Homo sapiens: one gene and its partner. The protein of the gene in region 2 interacts with the protein of the main gene of each other region in a biochemical or structural test. Each region holds a gene or a part of one and is shown on either strand. Other genes may lie near its edges.

What was found. Proteins that work in one complex are often made in the same cells at the same time.
Region 1: the proteins of ANAPC11 (region 2) and CUL5 form a complex in vitro, tested with the Homo sapiens proteins (one study listed by BioGRID).

What each region holds. Positions count from the first base shown.
Region 1 is NC_000011.10:108,067,898-108,071,397, reverse strand, and holds part of CUL5 (cullin-5), read right to left. Parts: intron 1,303-3,500; coding exon 1,209-1,302; intron 1-1,208. UniProt on the Homo sapiens protein: Core component of multiple cullin-5-RING E3 ubiquitin-protein ligase complexes (ECS complexes, also named CRL5 complexes), which mediate the ubiquitination and subsequent proteasomal degradation of target proteins.
Region 2 is NC_000017.11:81,897,739-81,900,755, forward strand, and holds the end of ANAPC11 (anaphase-promoting complex subunit 11), read left to right. Parts: intron 1-1,503; coding exon of another isoform or gene 1,504-1,804; intron 1,805-2,181; coding exon 2,182-2,327; coding exon of another isoform or gene 2,328-2,412; 3' UTR 2,413-2,517; downstream 2,518-3,017. UniProt on the Homo sapiens protein: Together with the cullin protein ANAPC2, constitutes the catalytic component of the anaphase promoting complex/cyclosome (APC/C), a cell cycle-regulated E3 ubiquitin ligase that controls progression through mitosis and the G1 phase of the cell cycle.

The sequences.
Region 1 (3,500 bases), on a different chromosome or scaffold from region 2:
CCAGCTACTCAGTGGGCTGGGAGGTGGGAGGATCGCTTGAGCCCAGGAGGTCAAGGCTACAGTGAATTGTGATCGTGCCATCGAATTCCAGGTTGGGCAACACAGCGAGACCCAGTCTCAAAAGAAAAGGTGAGTCATTTGGTTTTCAGTGCAAAGGAATATTTATTTACACACAAGATTAGTTTATTTCATAAGGTAGTTGTAATACTACATATACAGCCATATCATCAAAAGGTAAAAAACATGAGTAATAATTACGAAAGCAACTATATTAGAGATTAGAATATAAAACTGTATTCATAAATAATTTTTCAATTTACAAAGCACTTTTTCATGTTATGCCATTTTATTGACCTTCACAAAAACCCTACCTCACGGTACTGATTACCACTAAATAAATCCTTTTGAAAAGAGTGCAACATAGATCAGACATAACTCTAATTAGACTGGCACACAGAATACAAGTATTTTGTTTACGCCAATAAAGCAGCTTGCTTTTTACTACTGAATTACTCCTAAAAAGTGTATGAACTTAAGTGAATTGAAATATGCACTTTAAATGCAACTAGAGATTAAACAGGACCTTGCAGTTAGATATAATAAAACCTGGAAACTCAGTAGAAGTACGTTATTTAAAAAACAAAAGCAAAAAAATGTTAAAAGCAGTTTTACTGGGGTAGTAGGTATATGTACAATTTTTTTTTTTAGTTTGTTATATACTTGCTACCTCTCAAAACACATCTTTTTAAGAAAACATTGAAGTAATAAAAAAATCCTTTAGAAATCTTATAAAGTATTTTGGGGGACAGAGATGACTATTAACAGGGAGTGTTTTATTACATTCTAAAAAGATTCATCACAAGGTTCCACACAAAAGTCAAATACCTGGTTCTAATCTATAACATATGTTTCCAGTTTAAACTGGCCTTTAAAAGCAGTGTCTTGCTTTTGAGAAAAAAGTAGAAATTCACCATACACATACACAGATGTTGATAGCTAAGAGGGAAAATGCTTAAAATTTAAGTTTATATACTCTTAGCAGTGCCTCTGTGTTAAATATTTTATCTATTTCCTTAAGTATAGTTCACTCTAACAGTTCCACATATACCTATGTGGAAAAGAATTAACTAAGAGCAACTTAGTAAGTGATTTGTTTCAAAGATACCCTCTTAGAAGATTATGATAACTTTATGTGATGTTTTACCTACTTTCAGTTTCATTTCTCTTGATCATGCCTTGGCACTCAGCTAAGATAGTCTCTTTAAATGATGTCACCAGGGCATTTACACAGCATTCCATGAGCTGAAATATATCAAAAATTAGTCAAGGCTACTATAAGCTGTATAGCACAAATCTATTCTAACTCACAAAATAAAACAATATTGTTCAACAAAAAAAAAATTATACTGAAAGTAGATTTCACTTACCTTAACTATAGGATTATTGAAGATGGATATGCTATACTAGTTTACCAAAGTGTATTTTCCCCTAAGGAAAAAAACTATAGAACTAGACTCTCTTTAGAAATTTTAACAAAAGTCCTCAAGGAGGGGAGAGAAAAATATACAAAACCAAACTTTGATTAACTCTTCCTGTCTGGAGAGAACCTGTTTTAAAATTAGGTTATAAAATTCTAGAAGTGTGAATACATTCATTCAACAAACCATTATTGGATGCCTACTACGTGCAGGCACTAAGGAAGTATTTAAGAGACAAGAATAAGATATAATTCCTGCTCTCGAAGAGATCACTGTCTAATTGAGAGTGAGGAGGGCAGTAAACCTACACTGCTAACTAAATATAACTCAGTTAAGTGGCATCACACACATACACAAACACACACAAAATAAAAAAAAACTTAGAAACTACTTTTTTCTAGGGTAGTTAAAATGGCCTCATCCACAAGTTGGTATCTAAATGGGATCCTGTAAAGTAAGTACAAGCCCTAAAATAGGTTACGTATTCTAGGAATACCAGGAAGCTTAAAATGGTAGAGAAGAAACAGACAGTGGAAGAGAAGGCTAGAAAGATAGGCTGCAACCAGATTATGAATGAAAATCTATGATTTGGGGTTTTATTTCATAGGTAGGGAAGGAAGAACAAAGGAAGGTTTTTTTGTTTGTTTAAGAGACAGAGTCTTGCTCTGCTGCCCAAGCTGGAGTACAGTGGCATTACTACATAGCTACTATCATACCTCACTACAGCCTTGAACTCCTAGGCTCAAGTGATCCTCCTGCCTCAGCCTCTTGAGTAGCTAGGACTACAGGGATGTACTATCAAGTCTGGTTAATTTTTTAAACTTTTCTGTAGAGATGATGTCTTGCTATGTTCCCCAGGCTGGTCACAAACTCCTGGTCTCACATGATCCCCCTGTCAGTCTCCCAAAGTGTGGGATTACAGGTGTGAACCATCAGGCCTGGCCCCAAGGAAGTTTTAAACAGAGGATAAATGTAATGAGATTCTCCTCTCCTCAAGTCATTATTAAAGATCAGTATAATGGTAGTAAGGCAGGTGGTAAGGAGTGGGTGGTTGGGATATGGTAACGAGGCTGTTGAACTATTTCAGGTAAGATAGCAAGGGTCTAGTGCTCTAGGAGGCCATCAGGAAAATCTAAATGAGGCAGAAGATATCATGTCATCTCTGCTCCCTCGTGTCATGTAATTATTTACTTCTCTTTTGGGGATCAGATGAAATTAATAGGTTGTGAGGACTAAAGTTAAGTACAATAAGGCTGATATATTTCTTCTGAAAAACAAATCATCTATCTGTAAATTAAGGGAGGCAATTATGTGTCCCTTAAAAATTTTTTATTAAAAATTCCTTTGGAATTGACATAATGTTGGTAACTACTAAAGCTGAATTTAGGTAATGGGGATTCATTATACTGTTCTTCCTACATTGTAAAAATGCTTAAAATTTTCCGAATAAAGAATTTTCTGTGGTCCCTGCGAGTTGGGGGGCTGAGGTGGGAGGGTCAGTTAAGCTCAGGAGGTCAAGGCTGCAGTAAGCCTTGATCATGTCACTGCAGTGTAGTCTGGGCGACAGAGCAAGACTGTCACAAAACAAAACAAAACAAAACAAAAAAAAAGGTTTTTTCAGGCTCCTCTACAAGAATGATGCTGATGACTTTTAAATGCATATATCCATGTATATTTCTGTCCTAAGAAAATAATACACATGGCTGGGCGTGGTGGCTCATAGCCTATAATCCCAGCACTTTGGGAGGCTAAGGCGGGCGGATCACCTGAGGTCAGGAGTTCAAGACCAGCCTGACCAACACAGAGAAACCCCATCTCTACTAAAAATTAGCCGGGCATGGTGGGTGCCTGTAATCCCAGCTACTCGGGAGGCTGAGGCAGGAGAATTGCTTAAACCTGGGAGGCAGAGATTGCAGTGAGCCGAGATCGTGCCATTGCACTCCAGCCTGGGCAACAAGAGCAAAACTCCGTCTCAAAAAAGGAAAAAAAAAAGAAAAATAAAGAAAAGACTACACATATAAA
Region 2 (3,017 bases):
ATACCAAAGTGCTGGGATTACAGACGTGAGCCACCATGCCTGAACAAAACTACATAAATTTTTAATTTTTTTTGTGGAAATGGAGTCTCACTATGTTTCCCAGGCTGGTCTCAAACTCTTGGCTCTGTCCTGCCACAGCCTCCCAAAGTGCTGGGATTATAGGTGTGGCGCCTGGCCCGTACAAATACTTTTTATTCTAGGCTTAACTTTTACATTGGCCCTAGCTAAATAGAAATCTCATCACTCAGGAATTAATCCTCATTTAATCAAACGGGTAGGGTGTAATCTTAGGAAATTATTGATTGACTCTACCTGATTGGATTTGTAGTTAATAGCTAATTAGGTTAATAACTAAATTCACAAGGCACAGTTTTATTTGATCTCTTTTAAATTGCTCTTAAGGATGTAACAAAGAGTGCGTGGGATGCCCTGAGGGCAGGCATTCGACTTCTGGAGCAGCAGCTTAACTTCTGAAATTCCTCCGAACCATGTGTCCACACCTCGTCTGGCTGCATCCGTGGGCCAGATGTGGGTGGTGAATCCTGTGGATTAGAGGTGGTGCTAGGTAGCCCCCAAGTGACTGCAGTGGTGGGTCCACAGGCAGCCTGCAGAGCCCGCCCTGCAGCATGCCAGCTGGGCCTGTGATGGGGCATCCAGAGGGTGTTGCCCTGAACACTCAGCATGTCTCCGCTGACACAGTGTGCTCAGGCTTTGTTAACATGGGGCCTGTTGGCTGCAGAGACTCAGGAGTTGAGAGTCTAATTTTTGGACCTGCTGATGGTTAAGTCATAGTGAGTCAGTGTTAACGCGCAAAGCGTTTGACGAGTCCAATGTGCTTCCATACTAAGCAGCACCAGGTTTCTTTTGCTAAAATTGAACTCCTGTGAAAAATTCAGAGTGACTAAGTTCATTCAACAAAGACCGTGGGAGCCCGAGGCTGGTAAACAATGAGTCCATCCCGCATCCCAGGGGACTCTGGTGGCAGTGCAGTTTTGCCGAGAGGAGTTTTAATTTAAAAAAATGCAATCAGGAGACCAGCAGGTCCTGGAATGAGTCACCCTCAGTGCATCTGCGGACTCATCAGACACCCCAGGCCGGCTTCGGGTGGGGAATGCACTAGAACGAAGTGACACCTTTGACTAAACGAGGCCTCCCCCGAGTACTCAGAGTGGCCCAGACCCCTCTCCTCAGGGGGCTAGCAGGCTTCAGCTCTCATTTGAAAGGGCCGATATCAAGCAGAGTTGTGCTGAGGCCAGAAACCCCCACGGGCAGGTCCTCCCAGGGCTGGGAGTGGGCATGCCGTGGGGCCGGCGCTGCCAGGACAGGAGGGTGGCCACGAGCTCCAGCTCCACAATGCCAGGCCGACCCTGCCGTGGGGCTGGGGCTGGGACTTGCTGTGCTCTGTTGGCAGCAGCTGTTCCTCAGGGGTTTCCAGGCTCTTGGAGATCAGGGACACTCATTTCTCTTGATCATGGCTGATACAAGCATCCCTCTCTGTGTCAGGTCCTCTCCATGGAGAAAGCATTTCTAGGTGTTTGGGCTGGTGCCCGCAGCCTGTGCCTGTCCTGGGAGGCAGGGCCCATCCACAGGTGCCCATCAACACAGCTTCCCCAACGCCTGGGCAGCACACCGGATCCCTGATGTCTAGGGAAGAGTCTTCTAGGTCCCCAGACCCCACCCCTCCTGCCCTTGATCAAGAGACCAGTTCACTACTCAGATGCACGTCTCCTTGGTGCCTTGACCATTCATGTGACCTTTTTGGCATCACAGATCAAGTGTCTGCAGATGGGCCCAGGGCCTGTAGGTCAGACATTGCCCTTTTTCCCCAGCCTCAAGCACAGGGGACACAGGGTGGGCTAGGCCAGAGCGCCACCTCCTCAGAGAGGCCCCTGGGCTCCCCACTGAGCATGATGAGCCTGGGTGAGGGGAGGCGCCTGCTGCGGTTGCCCCGGGTGGAGGCCGCATGTCCGGTGTCCCTTGGTCATTGCTGGTCTTCGCCTGGGGGCGGGCTGGTCAGGAGACCGATTGGGTAACACTCCTGATTTCGGCTTCTCTGAAACATGAGAGGCTGCAGTGCTGGAGCCACTGCCCAGGGTCCCTACCTGCACCCCTGCCTGGCTTGTCACATGCTCTGTGTCCAGCCTGGTCATGCCTGTCCTTTTCCCCACCTCCCCTCCGTAGGCAAGGTGCCCGGCGACGACTGCCCGCTGGTGTGGGGCCAGTGCTCCCACTGCTTCCACATGCATTGCATCCTCAAGTGGCTGCACGCACAGCAGGTGCAGCAGCACTGCCCCATGTGCCGCCAGGAATGGAAGTTCAAGGAGTGAGGCCCGACCTGGCTCTCGCTGGAGGGGCATCCTGAGACTCCTTCCTCATGCTGGCGCCGATGGCTGCTGGGGACAGCGCCCCTGAGCTGCAACAAGGTGGAAACAAGGGCTGGAGCTGCGTTTGTTTTGCCATCACTATGTTGACACTTTTATCCAATAAGTGAAAACTCATTAAACTACTCAAATCTTGCTGGAGGCCTCTGGGTGCCTGTGTTCTCGGCATATAGATGTGGTCTCGGTGTGTTTTGATATGAAAACTCTCATGAATAAACATCTCCGTGAAACGCCAAGGCCCTCGTCAAACCCTGAGTCATGACTGGGAGGAGAAGGAGCAGGATCAGACGGTAGAGCCTGGGGCATGCTCTTCAGGCATGCTCTTGCCTGCTGGATTGCCGGCGGCGGCCCTGGGACCCTCCCTCAGGCTGGCTCTGAGGGACCCTGGCTGTGCAAAGCTGGCGGCCACTGCTTGTGGCGCCTCCAGACTGAAGGCCACCATCTCTGAGTGGGCGTCCATTGTTCTCACTGGGACTGTCTGCAGCGGGGCTGGGCCTCCCACAGTGTAGGGATCAGTGTCCTGACACTGGGAAGTGTGTCCACACGTCTGAGGCTTCCCTTCCTAGGGAAAGGTGGCCCTGGGAGGCTCCTTTGTGTGCCTCTGCTCCCCACAATCGTGGTGGGAAGGGGCCGCTG